Regions from separate parts of the Homo sapiens genome. Here region 2 is linked to region 1. Evidence: fine-mapped expression QTL. A gene starts in region 1. The other region holds a variant in brackets. All regions are shown on one strand. Distances are from middle to middle. Region 1 holds the start of SPTBN5 (spectrin beta, non-erythrocytic 5). Region 2 overlaps EHD4 (EH domain containing 4).

Region 1 (8,676 bases):
CACCCAGAGTTAGACATTGTTTTTGTAGAAAACAGGCATTTATTATGTCTAGGGTTTTGTGTTTTTTTTTTTTCCTTACAGGATAAAAGCCTTTATACAGAAACAAAATGGAACCTTTCATATAAAACCTTTTCTTTAAAGGCTGTGTGGTTCGTATCATGAATGCCCATCACGAGGCAGGATTCGGGCACATACCTGTACTTCTGCTCCAGAGTGTGCGCTCCCCAAATCCCCTGAGTAAACCTCTCTGGACTGCTGCTCAGACACCTGCGTCAGGTGGAGGTGCCTCCCCCTCTGTGGGCACCAGCTTGGGGAGGTAGGTGACTTTTCCTTGCAAATCTCCCTGCCTCATCTCCAGAAAATTGCATACCTGCATGGCCTCTCTGCATTATTTATGCAGGAAGAGACACGAAACAGCAATGGCCACATGGTATGGGGGCCTGCTGGCACCAGAAGTGAATGAAATCAGAACCGTCCCACTGAGTCTTCCAAAAGGCACATAATTTTTTTTTTCTGTCACCTGCCTTTGGTGACAGGGTCAAAGGCACAGATTGAAGAGAAAATCTTGATTTGGGAGAAGCATTTATATCCAGATGCCTACCCTTACACTCCCTAGCTTACTTTCTACATAATTTAGTTTTAAGAGCAGGAAATGCATAACATGGTTTTTAGTCTTAACAAGCACTTAAATTCATTAGACGCATAGAAAAGAACCATTTATTATTTTATTATTTTTATTTTTATTTTGAGAGGAAGTCTCTGTCACCCAGGCTGGAGTGCAGTGGCGCAATCTCAGTTCACTGCAACCTCCGCCTCCCAGGTTCAAGTGATTCCCCTGCCTCAGCCTCCCAAGTAGCTGGGACTACAGGCACCCGCCACCACGCCCGGCTAATTTTTGTATTTTAGTAGAGATGGGGTTTTACCATGTTGGTCAATATGGTCTCGATCTCCTGACCTCGTGATCTACCCACCTCGGCCTCCCAAAGTGCTGTAACCTAAGCAGACAGTTCTGTGAATGCGTGAGGACCACCTGAAGTCTGCAGCCACGGTGGAGGTCACCAAAGGGTGAACTGAGAGAGAAGAGGGAATTCACTTGCCCAAAGGTTTACAGATGCCCAGGCAAACTGATTTTTCCATCCAGAATTATCTTGTTCTTTAACTCTCCTCAATTGTCATATATAAACATGAATTTATATACATGTGTGTCACATGAGTATGTCGTTTTAAAACAACGTGTACATATGTAAGTTTTGTCTGGATACAGAAAGCTGCTTTAGAGGGCAGCAGGTTGAGGTCTCTGATTTCTCCGTGGAGGAAAACCTCTCAGGCACTGTGATCTCCCTACCTCTGCGCTCTCAGGTGGGAGAGGCGTCAGGCAGCGGAGTCCTTTCCCTGCTGGCACCTGGTAATGTTCTTGGAGAGAAAGGAAAAAAAAAGGAAATCATTTGGCCACTTTTCTTAATATCCTCTTACATGCAGTCATTCATCAAGAAAAGTTGACTGGAAAAGAAAACACTAGAAAATATGAGGGATGGCGACCAAGTGAGGACTTGTATCTTCCCAGGACCAGTACAAAGTTCTGTGAATGTGTCCACACCACCAGCTGTCTCCCTACCCCACACGGCAGGGCGGCAGGGCCGACCCTGGGGCCTGCTCACCATCACCGTTGCCCTTCCTGCACCACCCCAATTTTCAAAGAACCTCTTCCACAGAGTGTTTATGTATAGGAGAGAGGGTGGAAGTACCTAAACTCTAGAACTACAACATCTAAGAAGCTGAGGCCCTGTTTTCTACACAGCATATGGTATCGCATAACACAAACCTTCCGGTCTTGAGTTTAAAGGGAAAATGAAAACTCCAGCCTATTGCTCCCACAGTCTGCTTCCAAGTTGTCAGCCTGCCAGTGAGGGTCTCCTGACCCCGTTTGTAGAGAAACACTGCACTAAGACTTGGGAATCTCCCCAGCTCCCAGGGAGGGGTGGCACACAACAGCCTTCCAACCTGCTTCCGCCTCCTGCTCCAGCCCTGCAGCGTCTGTCAATTCATTTCTCAACTCACCGCACTTGGATGGCCTGGGGGCAGGGTTGCTCTTCTGGGGGAGGGTCATTCATTCAGTTGGCTTTTGGCTTTCCTTTCTCCGGGCTGGGCCTGGTTCTCTTTTGAACACTTGTCGTGCTGCAGCAAGAGCATCTTTGGATTTGGGGCTGTGGAGCTGTGGTTCACCCGCGGGAGTCACAGCCGCGGCCTGGACCTTTCCACCTCGCACCCTCGCTCACCCTCCTTCATGATGCCTGGAGGATGCCTGAGACAATTGCCTTGAAGATGAGGAAAGTGTTTCACTGTTTATTTTCTCCATGGGATGTAGCAGGCAAGCATGCTTAGGACAGAAAACCACTGAGTTTACTCAGGTAAATGCGGGCCTAATACAAGAGTATTGGGTTCCAATGTTGGTTAACCAATGCAGTTAATACGCAATGCTTCTATTTTTTTTCTTTTTGTAATCTTATTTAGAAGTTTCAAACAAAAAGACATAGTCTGCTGATCAATAAACATGGAGCTGCCCTCTCCCACTGGCTCATTTTCCAGTGGCTGCGTGCTGGCCTCTCGGAGCAGAGTGTGGATCCCTGGATCCAGGTTGAACCGGGGGAGAAGAGTTAGGGAGAGGGTGTGCCTGTGAGCCCCAACTCTTCCTGTGGAGAGAAACCCAAAATGCAGCCGCTTCAGAAGGAAAGCGGCCCCATCAGGTGGGGACAGAAGAGGGTAGGCAGCAGAGGCCAGGTCTGTGGACAAAAGCCCCACTTCAGAGTGGTTGGAAGCCAGGACAGGAGGGACTCATGGAGGTGACCGCTTCACAGGAGTCCTTTCTCCAGTCGTGCTAGGGAGGAGCCCCTGCCTGTCCAGCACTGCCCCTGCCTCTTGCTGTACCTTGCCAGTGTGCCCTCCCCCCGCCCACTACCATAGTAGGCATCTGGCTTTTCCCACCAACCCATCTACCTTTTTGGTGGTCCAGACCTACAGTCTCCTTGCAGAGCACTCCTCCTCCCACCCTCACTTCAAGTGAGGTTTGGATGAGATTGACCACATCCCCTTGGTCACAAATATTGGCTCAGGAATGGACATGTGGCCCTGTTCAAGCCTATGAGAGCCAGGACCCCCAGACTTATGTTAGAACTCTTGAGAGAGATACTCTGTCTTCTCTGAACCTTGCAGTATATAGAAATGAGCCTATTGATGCAACAATATAAATGGCACTGAGAGGGGTGTCCAGAGCTGCTGGGGTCAGGGGAGGGAGGTCAGCCTGGCAGAAGCCATCTTGTGGAGCATGAAAATGAAAGAGACCTTGAGAAAGGCCAGAGGAATCCAGGCCTGTGGTGACAACATTTGAGCTGCTGGATCAAACCTCACCTGAAGTCCTTCCTATTCCTACTAGATATTTTTTTCCACTGTGTGGGCCAATGCATTCCCTTTATACTGTGTAAGCCAGGCATGGTGGCTCACACCTATAATCCCAGCAATGCAGGAGGCTGAAGTGGGAAGATCGTTGAGGCCAGGAGTTCAAGACCAGCCTGGGCAACCTAAGAAGACCCTGTCTCTAAAAAAGAATTAAATATAAATAAATAAATAATAAAAATATAATGTTTAAACCAGTTTCACTTGAGATTTTAGTTACTTGCAACATAAATAATCCAAACTTTGTTCCGACCCACAGGGTTCTCATTTCACCAGGGGCTGCAATCAGTCGTGGCCAAACAGGAGCCAGTCCTTGCATTGTATGCAGTGGCTTTAGCTGCCGTTGAGCTAGAAAGGAAGAAAAGCAGTCCACAGCCCCCGCCAACAGCTTCAAAATGCCAATCCCTGTTGAGGTCTATGTGCGAAGCACCACGCAGTTCAGTCTGTCCTCCCCGCTCACAACATCACACAGGACTCCACGGGCCGAGCAGTTCAGTCTGTCCTCCCACGCTCACAACATCACACAGGACTCCATGGGCTGAGGGTCTTACTAGGAGAAGGAACAAGCTCAGTCTCCCTGGGGTAAGCGGGTGGGATGAGGGACTTCCTAGAAGAAACAGGATTTTAACTGGGGCAGGCAGGATAGGTGAATGTGGATGATGGAGAATGGGAAAGGACGTTCAAAGCTGAAAGAGCAGCTGAAGCCCAGCCTTGGGGCAGGAGAGCTCTGGTCCTGCTCAGGAAATGGTGAGTGGCCCATGGAGAGCACCCAGAGTGAGGGGGGCAGACTAGCCTGGTTAGGTAAGCTGGCAGGCTTCCAAGGCCTGGCTGAGGCAAGGTCTGGCAAGTCTGGATTTTCCTTCCCAGGCTGTGGGAGGCTTCACAGGCACGAGCAGAGCTGCACTGTGGAAAGGTGCGGGGTGGTGGTGTCCAGGATGCCGAGTTAGGGGGTCCGTGATGAGGACCCCCAGGGGCAGTGAGGGCAGAAGGGGGGGTGCACGGGAGGACCGCCACAGCAACTGCTGCGAGCAAGGGAGGGACGCAGGGTGTCTGGAAGCCAGCCGCTGCAGAAGGGGCCTGGCAGGGAGAGGACAGCAGGAGAGGAAGCGTCTCTCAGACGCAGGAAGCCGCACCCCACCCGAGACCACGGCACCTCTCAGCGTCACCCCTGACTGCCTGCAGTGGGCCCAGGCGGTTCAAGTGTGACTCATCCCTAGCCCAGCTCTCAAGGGCGCGCTGAGCGGCTGTCCTGCTGTGGGCTGTGGCTGCCAGGAGCGCCTCCCTGAGGAGCGGGCTGTCGCTTCAGAGGCTCCAGGGCCGCTGGAAGACACCCACACACACACACCCCAGCCCACACTGCTACCCTGAGTTTAGCCAGAGGCGGGTGAGACCCCCAGAATTAGAACTCGCCTTCACTCTGGCATGTAGTCCACGGCTGCTCGGGGAGGAAGGGATGGGCGCCCACCAGCTCCCTCTGCACCCCTGCCTCCGAGCCCCGGGCCACGGCCAGCTCTGTGGAGCCCAGAGTTAACACCGTGTCTCTAATTTTGGAGGAGACTCCACAGCCCTCGCAGTTCCAGGTCACCCCTTCCTCCAGGGAGCCTACCCTTCAGCCCCGGGCTAGGCAGGCTGCACTCTGGCAGGGCCTGGAAAGCCAAGCCCAGGGTCTGTGAGGCCCTCAGTCTATGGGCTGTTCCCTGGGGGTGAATGAGAAGACCACGGCCCAGGACGCTCCCTCATCCCCTCGCCCTGGGTGCTCACAGAGAGGCCCCAAGAGGGTACAGAGGGCAGTCTCAGATTGGGAAGTGCGTCCACAGGCTTCCCACAGAGGCTCTGCCCTTTGGTACCTCCTACGCAGACTGCAGCACCCCATGCGGTGGCAGGGCCGCTCCATGGGCCTCTGCGTCCTGGGAGCCAGGACCCCCACCTGGAGTTGGAGAAGTTGCTGGCGGGGAAGGGAGGATGATGAAGGAGGACATCATCTGGCAATGGCCCTGGAGCATTCCTGAACCACCCCCTCCCTGTCTGGGCCACGCCCTGTGGCAGGTGGGAGGACAATGCCGCCTGTGTGCCGTCACCCCAGCACGCTGGCTCAAGGGGAGGGCTGTGGTGCAGCCCTGCTCCAGCCTTGGCCTCTCCTGATGTCCCTCTCCCTCCCTCCACAGCCCCTGCTATCTGCCATCTCCATCCGTCCAGCTGGGCCGCCTCTGTGGAACCCAGGCATCACCAAGGTAAGCAGCCCCTGCTATCTACCATCTCCATCCGTCCAGCAGAGCCGTCTCTGTGGGACCCAGGCATCACCAAGGTAAGCAGTTTCCTGTCTTCCTTCCACCTGTCCCAGTCACTGTGGTGGAGGGACCTGGCAGCAGGGGCTCTGAGAAGAAGAATCTGGAAGGTGGGGTGGGGCAAAGGGGGCCCTGGGCCATTCAAGCACAGGGGACCAGAAGCACTGGCCCTTACCTGGCTGGGCTCCAAGCTGCAACCCCCATGAAATGTGAGGACAGTCTGGCAAGGCGGGACCCCAGGCCCCTGGTAGAGGGGCCATCTCCATTCACATCATCCCCTAATCTGCATGCCCTCCAGGTTTAGGGAGCCATCCAGCAGCTCCTCATCCCCAAAGTCTGCAGGGCTGATGGCTGGTCAGCCCCACAGTCCCCGGGAGCTCCTCGGGGCTGCAGGGCACCGCAGCAGGAGGCCCAGCACAGAACTCCGGGTCCCGCCCAGTCCAAGTCTCACCATGGACTCTCAGTACGAGACGGGCCACATTCGCAAGCTACAGGCCCGGCACATGCAGATGCAGGAGAAGACTTTCACCAAGTGGATCAATAACGTCTTCCAGTGCGGCCAGGTGAGTATAGCCAGCTGTGACCCACAGCCCACCCATACCAGGCCCCCAGCTCTGGCCAGTGGGCCTCCGGGGTGAGCTGTGGGGTCATCTGCCTGAGGCCAAGCTGAGGCCAGAGCTCCTTCTTCCAAAGCAGCTGCTCTGGGTCGTACCTCTCAGGTCCCAGGATGGGAGGACAGGTGAGGCTGGGCTGACCCCATACTTACCCCTGTCCCCTCCCCAGGCGGGCATCAAGATCCGGAACCTGTACACAGAGCTGGCTGACGGCATCCACCTCCTGCGGCTGCTGGAGCTCATCTCAGGGGAGGCCCTGCCACCCCCGAGCCGGGGCCGCCTGCGTGTGCACTTCCTGGAGAACAGCAGCCGAGCTCTGGCCTTCCTCAGGGCCAAGGTGGGCCCCAGGGAAAGGGGTCTGGGATGGTGCTGGGGCAGGCAGCTGGGACAGGCTGAACTACTGGGTCACCTTTCCTGCGCCAGGCCACTGGGCAGAACAGAGGAGCTGGGGCCTGAGTACAGGAGGAGTGGCTGGGACACAGAGGAGCAGAAGCCACGCCCTCCTCGCACAGCACCCCTGACTTGGAGAGCACCCAGCTGGCCATGGCAGTAGCAATCCAGGTCCCTACTGGGGTGGAAAATGTCACTGTCTGTCATAAGAGAGACTCACAGGATTCTAGGCCAAAAGAATCTTAGCGTTCTCTTAGGCTTTTCATTTCACAGATGAGGAAACAGAGGCCCTGAATTATTTACCAGGCAAGATCGATGGTTAACCAGCCAACAGAGCCCAGATGTGGGACTAAGACGGCAGGTGGGGAAGAGGAGCAGGGCCTGTCTTGGAGAAGGAGGGAGGAGGCCTCAGCAAATGGGGGGAGGCAGAGTCACCTGAAAGAAAGGGACAGGCTAAGGAGATGGGCACTAAAAGGAGGCCGGAGCTCCAGGGACAGAGGGACCCTCATGGCCAGGGTGAGGGGCTGGTGCAGGGGTGGGGTGGGGCAAAGGGATCATTGGAAACCGGGAACTGTGAAGGCCAAGGGCTCCTGGAGGTGGCTGTCCCTGGAGGCTGTGAAGTCACTGAGCTGGGCCTGGCTGGATGGAGCCTGACTGTGCGTGCCTATCACTATATCCTGGAGTGGAGCTTACATCCAGCCTCCTGGGGTGTGTTGGAGGAAAGCCAGGGAGGGGAGAAGCCCAAGCAAAGGGAATGGGAGTGACTGCTGTCCTGAGCAGGTGCAAGAGCAGAACGCTGCCAGCTGCAGAATGCTGGGCCCTAGTTGATCCAGGGACAATGACCCTGTGAGCCAGTCATCTCCCCTCCAGGAACTGGGGAAGGGTGTAAGCCCCACAGCCTTTGTCAGAGGTGTTGCAGCTCTCCCCAAGCTTTAATATACAGCATGTCACTGATACCTGTGAGGGTGACATCCTTGTCTCCATACACATAGGAGGCAACTGTGGTCTAGAAAGGATGACGGAGTTGCCGCAAACACACAGGGAATGTGTGGCAGAATGAGGGATGCATTCGCTTATGGAGATGCTCCCATGCCCTGGGCATTCTATGCAGGCGCTGGGCTCCACTAAGCAAAGCCCAGACCCCCACCTCAAGGCACCTGGCTTCAAAGGGAGACAGATTCATTGAACCCAGATCAGCGGTGTGCTGGTAAACGTTTAACAAATGATTCTCTGGGGGAAATAAAAACTCCAGTGTGCTGTATTCGCTGATCCTATGGCGTTAATACCCCCCATCACGGTGAGTTTAAGCCACCAGCGTGACATCGCTCAATAGGAAGTCAGGAGGATAGGCTCTCAGGAGCTGGGAGGAGCAGACAAACACCCCACTCACCAGAGGCTCCAACTCTAAGCCAAGGTGATTGACATGGCAGGTGGAATCCACCCCAGGAGCATGGGTGGGATCCTTTAGAGGCCAGCCAGATATACCAAAGTTTACCTAGGGGGACACCCAGGATTGCAGCTCCTCCCACAGGGCTAGTAGTGGCCGGCTGAAGCCAGTTGCCCTTCAGGTCTTATGGAAAGTCTCACTCCTTTTCTTTCTCCATTCAGTACTTACTGATCGATTGCCTGCTGTGTGCCACTCCCCTAGGATACACCAGAAAACAAAGCCAAGATCCTCACTTGAGCAGGGCAAGGGGATCGAGAGTGTGTATTTGGGTGGGAGAAATAGTCCTTAAGTTTCTGTGTTAAATAAAGTGGTCAGGCTAGGCAACATCTGAGTGAAGAGTTAAAGGCAGGGAGGTGAATAGCCATGCAGATACCTGGGAGAATACTTTCAGACAGCAGGCACGGCCCTGCAAAGGCCTGAAGTCCTGTGCTTAGAATCCCATGGAACTATAAGAATCCCATGGGCCTTGGAGCTATGTGATTCCACAGGG
Region 2 (8,676 bases), 56 kb before region 1:
TTGAAACGGTAGCACCTCCTGAGCCCAGCTTTACTCCAGGGAGAGTAGGGAGAGCTGGCCCTTGTTGTCAGGGTAGCCAGAGGACCGTGCAGGGGGACATTGTGGAGAGCTCTTCCCCTCAGCTGAGAGGAAATGGGGGTCCTCGTCCCTCATGCCAAGTGACACACCCTGGGATGAGGCCCTGAACTTTGCTTTGCTCTTCACCCCTGAGCAAACCACTAACTTGAGGCCATTTCTGAAGACAGTGCAAGTTCTGGAGTCTGAATGCTTGCATTCCATTTCCACTCGAACATCCGCTGTGTGACCTTGGGCAAGCCGCTTGGCCTCTCTGATGCCCCAGTTTTCCCACCTGTAAATAAAACGAGGGTAATGTCATCATCCACCTCAGAGCATGAGGTGAAACAATATAGAAGGCTCAGCGCCATATCAGGAATATAGCAAGCACTCAGTAAATGCCGTGTGCTATTAGCAGATTTTTTTCTCTAAATTTAGAGATAAAAGATATCATCAGATTTACTGTAAATTTAGGAGACATATTTTAATGGTGTATCTATTCTGGGGTGCCACAACTTCACAGAAACGTAGAAACTTTGGATGAAGTGAAAACTAGCAATGACATCAATTAAAGGTTTAGAATATAGCCCGTTAAGGTTGCTAAACAATTTCAGTTTTAGGCCAGTTGCGGTGGCTCATGCCTGTAATCCCAGTACTTTGGGAGGCCAAGGTGAGGGGATAGCTTGAGCCCAGGCATTCAAGACCAGCCTGGGCAACATGGTGAAACCCTGTTTCTACAAAAAATTAGCTAGGCATGGTGGCATGTGTCTGTAGTCCCAGCTACTTGGGAGGCTGAGGCAGGAGGATTGTTGGAGCCCAGGAGGTCGAGGCAGCAGTGAGCCGAGATTGCACCACTGCACTCCAGCCAGCCTGGGCAACAGAGCAAGACCCAGTCTCAAAAAAAAAAATTTTTTTTCAGTTTTATTTACATAGAAAACATAGGTCTAAATGGTGGCTTAATTTCTCATTCTTTTAAAGATGGAAAAATTGTATTTGGCATTTGATAGAATTCAGCACTTTCTCTCTTTCCCTGGAAATAGTCACAGATTGTGGGCTTACATTAGAATCAGTCAAAACTTTTTAGAAACAAAGAAGTAGTTTAGGACCAAATAGATTGTTAGTTGCAGGAATGGGGAGCTGCAGAAGGCTGTGCAGGTTTTTTCCCTTGAGCCCCTTCAAGGCTTATAAGACGAAGATCATCCTCCTGGCATGGTTGGGACATGAGTCTGCCCTCATCAGCTCAGACACCTTGCAGGGCCCATAAACAAGTAATTGTAGTACACATGCTGAGCACCACGCTGGCAGCAGGCACAGGGTGCCCAGGGACCACAAAAGAGGTGTCCCCACATGCAGGTCAGGGAGGCTCCCCTAAGGGAGCTGAGCCTGAGCAGAGCTTCCAGGATGCCCAGGAGCCAGCACGGTACACTTCCCTTGGGGTAGCGTCTGTTGCATCAACAGAAATGCAGAGGAGGATTGCGTGCTTTTCTTGGGGGTTATGTTTCTACGTTTTTAAATGATTATGTAAAAAAATTGGTAATCCCAGGCAGCTTTCTGGCCTCTTACTTTGTGATAAGATGCTAAGCTTTCTCTTCTTCTTCCCTCTCCCAGATACCTACTGGAGCAGGATTTCCCAGGCATGAGGATTGGTCCGGAGCCCACCACAGACTCCTTCATCGCCGTGATGTATGGAGAGACTGAGGGCAGCACCCCAGGGAATGCTTTAGTCGTGGACCCCAAAAAGCCGTTTAGAAAGCTCAGTCGCTTTGGAAACGCTTTCCTGAATCGGTAAGGACCAGCAAGCTGCCATCTTCGGTCAGGCTGTTTAAACCTTTTCTTTGAATTACTGCCAGTTACATATAAAGGTTCAAAAACAGAAGAACAAAGAATCTCTGCTCTAGAAGTCATACAAAATATGTTTATCATATTAAGATATTTGAAAGACTATCATAGGAAATAATCATTTATGCCTATTCTGGGTAACTTGAGAGGGCAGAGCTAAGGCCCAGAACTGGACATTATAAGGCTGCACAGGGCCAGGTGTGTGGCTCGTGCTTGTAATCCAGCACTTTGGGAGGCTGAGGCAAAAGGATTGTTCGAAGCCAGGAGTTTGAGACCAGCTTGGACAACGAAGTAAGACCCTGTCTCTGCAAAAAATTTTAAAAGTTAAAAAATAAAAATGCTTACAGTATAAGGAACAAATTTCTAATAATTTGAGCTGCACAGAAATGGATTAGGCTGCCTCATGAGGCAGTGAGCTCCTCGTCACTGGCAATGTTAAGCACTGGTTAGACAGACACCTCTCAGGCATGGTGCGCTGGGCTTCTGCAGTCAGAGAGCTTAGCCCAGAGGACCCCTAACCTTCACCGGACACTCGGATTTTACCCACTGACTCCAGAACAGGACCCCTCACCTCCCTGGCTGTCCCTTTTGCTTCTCACTCCCAGCTTTGAGCTGTTTCCTTATTCATCAGAGCAGGGCCAGGGAAACAGAGTGAAAAACATGAAAAGCTGATTTTCTTACGTGGTCGTTTTTTTTTTTTTTTTTTTTTTTGCGGGGGGGAAGATAGAGTCTCATTCTGTCTCCCAGGCTGGAGTGCAGTGGCATGATCTCCGCTCACTGCAACCTCCGCCTCCCAGGTTCAAGCAATTCTCCTGCCTCAGCCTCCCAAGTAGCTGGGATTACAGGCACCCACCACCACACCCAGCTAATTTTCGTATTTTTAGTACAGACAGGGTTTCACCATGTTGGCCAAGCTGGTCTCAAACTCCTGACCTCAGGTGATCCACCCGCCTCGCCTTCCCAGAGTGCTGGGATTACAGATGTGAGCCACCACACCCAGCCTACGTGGTCACTATTTTATAGATGTAAAGTTGTGGGGTCACTGAGGTTCTGCCTCACTTGGAGATGTGTTTTATTTGTACTCCTCCCATAACCTTTCATTAGAGTTCCCAGTGGAACTGAGGGCTGCTGGCCTGGGGAAGACAGGCCAGCTGGTACCCCTGGCTACAACTCTGCCCTTTCCCACTGGATCTGCCTTCCTTCCTCCCTCCTGCACCTCCTATTTGCTACCCCTTGCGTTTGTGTAATGCTTTTTTCTTGTTTCCTATCATCCCTCTCCCACCCCTCTATTTCCCTCTTTCCTGGGTCTAGCTTTCGTGTGGCTGATTTGGAGGAGTGGGTTGTAGGAGGCACAGAGCTAGGGAGGGTCATCCGAGCCTCTTTAGGGAGAGGAAGTAGCATTAGAGCTGACAGTCCACATCTCCTTTCTAGAAGTTTTTAAAAATAGGAACGGATCCTCCCAGCCGGCTGCTGTCCTCCCAAAGGCCGAAGCGCCTCATCGCGCAGCTCCAGGGGCACCATTCATGTGGCCTGGGGAATGAATGATGTGCTGGATGCTGTGCACTGGCTCGGCTGAGGGCCACCCAGGCCCCTCCGCAGGTGCCTTCTGTGGAAGATGGAACTCTCCGGGGAGCTGAATTCTCCATTAGGGGCTTTTTGATGATCCTATTGCAAATCAAAGAAAGCAACCAGGGAACTTGGCAGTGGGATGAACAGAAACCTGCAGGTGATGTGGAAGGAGTCCCAGAGGAGTTCCATCTTATTACTGATGGTGATAGGAACACTGTCCAGGTGATTTTTTTCCAACCTGCAGGGCTGACTTTTCTAGGAGGAGTTTACTCTTCAACTCCAGAGCTGACTTGGTTGGCACCAGAGTGTCTCATTGTGGGAGAGGGGGTTAAGCCCTGGGCGGGAGAACCCCAGAGGGTCAACTCTCCAGATCTCTCAGGACAGAGTGGCCCAGGGTGGAGGGGAAGTAGACCAGAACAGGAGGCCCCAGAAAGTTCAAGGCACAGGATCTGTCTCTGTGGAAGGCTTCCCTGGGGTCCTCTGGTTTCATTGCCACTGCCCTTTGTCTGGGGCTCTTTTTGCCCAACAAAGGCTTAA[C/T]GAAATAAGCTGCCAGTTTTTTCAAATTCCCACTTTGTGAAGTCTGAATTCACAAGGGAGAAACCAGGAAGAGTGGTTATTGGCTTGCTTTATTTTGGCAAATGATTTACTTTCCTAACAAAAAAAAAAAATGTTTTTTTCTTCTCAAATCCCAAGCACATGACAGATGAGTACAGAAAAGAAATTTTTAGGAACGATTTTGAATGGCAAAGCTCTTGTCTCAGAATTTAAAACTTGCTGAAAATAATCCATGCCTTATAATAAAAGCAAGTGTCAGTTGAATTCAGAATAACATATAGAAAAATAATAGCAAATAATTATATGGCATTTATGTGTCAGATTCTGTTCTAGACTTGTGTATTAGCTTTAAATCCTCACAGAACCCCTGTGACATGATGCTACTGTTATCCTCAATGGAGGGGGAGGAATCAAGGCATAAAGAGGTTACTTTAATTTCTGGGGGTCACTCCACCAGTGAGATCAGTGCTGGGACTGGAACCCAGGCCAGCTGACCAATAGTATGATGTTTGGACTGGGAATCACTGCCCAGTGCCCCCTATTTAACTCTTAGGGTTAGGGTTAGGGTTAGGGTTAGGGTTAGTAAGGCTGTTCCTAATGTAGCCCTCCAGTAATGATGATGAAGATGACGGTGATTATGTCCCAAGTCATCACTTACGTAATTTCATGTACATTATTCTTTTGGCGTTGATAACACAGACAATACTGTTGCCAATCTACAAATGAGAAGGCCGAAAGCAAAGACATGACTTGCTCAGGGAGAGGCCATCAGGAAGAGGCAGAGAGGGGATTGGAATCCAGTGTTCCCCTTCTCCCCTGTCCCACACCCTATGCCTCTGCTCAGCATCGGCCAAGAGGAGTTTCTGTCCTTCTAGCCAAGTGTGTGTCAGGCTCACGTGTAAGGGACATGCCTCATGTAAACTCATAGCTACTTAAGAGTAAACAGCCTCATTAAGTAGTATCCACAGGACAGTGCCACTGCATCACACAGCAGTTATTTAAGAAAGAGTCAATTAGTTAGGGCGTTCAAATATGTGTACATAATTATAGCTTCCGTCTGGGAACAGCACAGGGTTAGTACTAGAGGCAAACCTCTTTTCACATAGCATACTTCTCTGGGAACTAGGTCAAAATGTAACACCTAGTAAAGAAAATTGCTTGTTTTCTGCGGAGAACTTTCTCTCCCAAGCAGCCACACCAGAATCTCCCTGTGACAGATCGTTATTACCTGGCCTTCTCCTTAAGGAGTGCTGGCTTGGGCATCTGCCCCCAGGGGCATCTTTAAAAGAGTTAAGTACCAGGTGATACCTGGAGGGGGACAACACCCTCCACCATTAAGCAAACCAGCAAAGCCCGAGTCACAGCCTCCCAGGCTGGCTTCTAAGGAGCGACAAGGGGTCTATGGTGCATTTCTGAGAAATGAAGATAAATTCCTAAAAAGGTTTATATTAGAGAAATTCCATACTTGAACAATAAAAGGAGTTTAGAACACACAGAGGTCTATGGAAATGGCTTTAGTGAGACATTCTGAAACTCTAGCAGACTGCTGTGCTCACGACGAATTCCTCAGTGGCCCATCTGGGAGCAGCTCTGGGGAGGTGCTTGTTGACATTCCAGAGGTTGCTATCAGGAGGCAGTTGCCCCTCACAGAGGAGGAGACAGCCAAGGGCACCCAGAGCATTGGATCCTCTGAGACGCCAGGGAAGTGCCAGGCATTGGGGTCTGACATTTCCCCTTGCAGTCTGCTTTTGAATAAGATGTTATGTTATTCCTCAGTCTCCTTTTCTAAAAAATGGTAATGTGTATATTTTCAAATTCAGATAGCTGTAGACATTTTTTGTCTAGGATCTAGTATTATTTTAAATTGTTATCTTCCACAGAAGAAATTCTTAATCTCATGTACTTCCTCATTGCCTCTGTTTCTTTCTAAAAAATAACTTGAATCACTGGCCCTGGGAATTGAAATTTTGAAACTTCCCTTTGAGCTGAAGGAATGTGAACAGCCCTTCCAGGGCTCAGTCATTTTAGCTGGGCCTGATGATGGTGATGATAAACAACCACTGTGTTATGCTTGAATGGTGATTCCCCCATCATAAAATACGCAGGTGTATTATTGACCTTCTACTCCATTTGTTACTTCTGTATTTGTAATTAAGCGAGGCTTCACTCAGTTTAGCTTTTGAGTTTTGATTTTATTTTATTATTATTATTTTTTTGAGATGGAGTCTTGCTCTGTCACCCAGGCTGGAGTGCAGCTGCGCAATCTCGGCTCACTGCAACCTCTGCCTCCCGGGTTGAAGTGATTCTCCTCTCTCAGCCTCCCGAGTAGCTGGGATTACAGGTGCCCACCTCCATGCCCAGCTACTTTTTGTATTTTTAGTAGAGATGAGGTTTCACCATGTTGGCGAGGCTGGTCTTGAATTCCTGACCTCAGGTGATCCACCTGCCTCGGCCTCCCAAAGTGCTGGGATTACAGGCATGAGCCACCATGCCTGGCCAAATTTATGTATATGTATGTGTGTGTGTATGTGTGTATATATATATATATATATATATATATATATATATAGTCTCACTCTGTTGCCCAGGCTGGAGCGCGGAGGCACGATCACAGCTCACTGCAGCCTCAACTTCTGCTCCAGCAATCCTCCCACCTCAGCTTCCCGATTGCTGGGACGACAGGCGTGTGTCACCATGCCCAGCTAATTTTTGTATTTTTTGTAAAGACAGGGTTTTGCCATATTGGCCAGGCTGGTCTTGAACTCCTGGGCCCAAGCAGTCTACCCGCCTTGGCCTCCCAGAGTGCTGGGATTACAGGCATGAGACACTGTGCCTAGCCAAGTTTTGAATATTTGATAGTCACTGTGTACCACTGGGAATTTTTAAAAACTGACTTACTAAAGTTCACAGCATCAGTCCAAGCACGTGCGGCTTCCCCCAGCCAATTTAGCTGCAGAAATTAAGGAAAACAGGCTTTTGCCAAGAATGACTCTTGATTCACCAGCAAAATAATTTTTTTTTAATCTGAGGGAATAACTGGGTTGTCTTGTGCATGTGTATTGTGGTTCATTTATCTATAATAAACTTGCTGAAGCTTTCCCCATTATTCTTTAACCTCAAGATTTGTTGGCCAGCCACGGTGGCTCACACCTATAATCCCAGCACTTTGGGAGGCCGAGGCAGGCCGATCACTTGAGCTCAGGAGTTTGAGACCAACCTGGGCAACATAGCGAGAGACCTTGTCCCTAAAAAAATAACAATAATAAAAAAGATTTGTGGTGGTTCCCTGGGTGGTAGTTCCCTGGTCACTAAACCATCGTGGTTTTTTTTTTGGAGGCGGAGTCTTGCTCCATCACCTATGCTGGAGTGCAGTGGCGCAATCTTGGCTCACTGCAAACTCTGCCTCCCGGGTTCAAGCAATTCTCTGCCTCAGCCTCCCGAGTAGCTGTGATTACAGGTGCTCACCACCACACCCGGCTAATTTTTGTATTTTTAGTACAGACAGGGTTTCACTGTGTTGGCCAGGCTGATTTGAACTCCTGACCTCGTGATCCACCTGCCTTGGCCTCCCAAAGTGCTGGGATTACAGGCGTGAGCCACCGCGCCTGGCCTAAACCATTGTTCTTGACTAGCAGCTGCCTGTACATTTCTGGTCCTGACATTCCAGAAATGCCTTTCTCCCTGGGGTCAGGCAGACCTTCCTGGCTGGGCCATTGCACTGGGCTTTCCCCTGTGGCAGTCAGGAGGGGATTTATAAAAGTACATATTTAGGTTGAACCATATGAAATTGGCAGTCTTAAATAATCTTTAACCTTTAAAAGTGGTAATTAGTTTCAATCTAATAGGGCAACCAGGGGCTTTGCTGTAATCTGGATGTGAAATTCAGTTCCTAGTTCTTCCTAGGCACTGGAAGATAAGATTAGCCATTTGTGGTAGGACCATATAATAAGAATTATTACAGTTCAGTTGTCAAAGTCTTTTTTGTGGGTTGTGTTCTATTTACTGTGCAAATTTAGGAAGTTGTATTATCTCTCTGGTTTTACCCTCATCAATAAAGTGGGCTGGGGTGAAAAGAAGTACTTTGAAACAATTCTATACTCTCTCCGCTGTAAGCTTAGGTTTATTTGAACCTAATGGCAAACCTGGAAGTCCGCAGGCCTGGTAGAATTGCTCAGAGAGGTTTAGAGACCTGTGCAAGGTCAAGGTCTCAGAATGAGTAAGGGAGACGTCTGGAGCCTAAATCTCCTACCTCCTGTTCCCCACCCTGACAGACACTCCACACCACTAGGTAGAGAGCAAACCACACAAGGAAGCCTCTTAGGGGCAAGTTCCAGGGCTGTGGCACGTCACCCCTTTGTTTTAGGATGTTGCCCTGCACATGATATGCCACACAGCAGTGGTTCCAGTGTGTGCCATGGTGATAGTAGCCCAGGAGTGAAGAACCTGGGCTCTGCAGTCAGCACTGCCAAGTTCATGTCCCAGCTCCATCACTTCTCAGCATGTTATGGCATGTGTCTGCTCTGTGCCCAGTCTCCTCCTCTAAATGCAGAGGCTCACAGCCCTACCTGTAAGGCTGCAGTAAGGCTGGAGTTAATGTGCATGGAAAGTACTTCAAACTGTGCCTGACACCCAGTAAGAGGTGAGGAAATGTTTGTGCTA

The links. PIP is the estimated chance that this variant, and not a neighbour inherited with it, causes the effect. A credible set is the group of variants that fine-mapping cannot tell apart.
Region 2: its variant is the best candidate, but not a certain one, in a credible set for the expression of SPTBN5 in putamen (GTEx, PIP 0.56).

The regions. Positions count from the first base shown.
Region 1 is chr15:41,890,904-41,899,579 of GRCh38, reverse strand. It overlaps SPTBN5 (spectrin beta, non-erythrocytic 5), which reads left to right and starts at 5,527. Exons shown (of 68, transcript NM_016642.4): 1 at 5,527-5,681; 2 at 6,034-6,298; 3 at 6,519-6,686. The coding sequence starts at 6,083. EHD4 (EH domain containing 4) reads left to right here. Exons shown (of 6, transcript NM_139265.4): 6 at 1-3,647. LOC105370792 (a long non-coding RNA gene) reads right to left here and starts at 6,803. Exons shown (of 4, transcript NR_135681.1): 1 at 6,502-6,803; 2 at 4,244-4,353; 3 at 2,059-4,000; 4 at 765-1,413. RefSeq lists enhancers at 6,683-6,742, 7,936-8,676.
Region 2 is chr15:41,946,927-41,955,602 of GRCh38, reverse strand. It overlaps EHD4 (EH domain containing 4), which reads left to right. Exons shown (of 6, transcript NM_139265.4): 2 at 1,663-1,839. It overlaps LOC124903477 (a long non-coding RNA gene), which reads right to left. Exons shown (of 2, transcript XR_007064603.1): 2 at 1-349. Among named protein-coding and RNA genes, the nearest start is that of EHD4, 21 kb to the left of the region's middle. The variant C/T (reference allele first, on the strand shown) is at 4,000.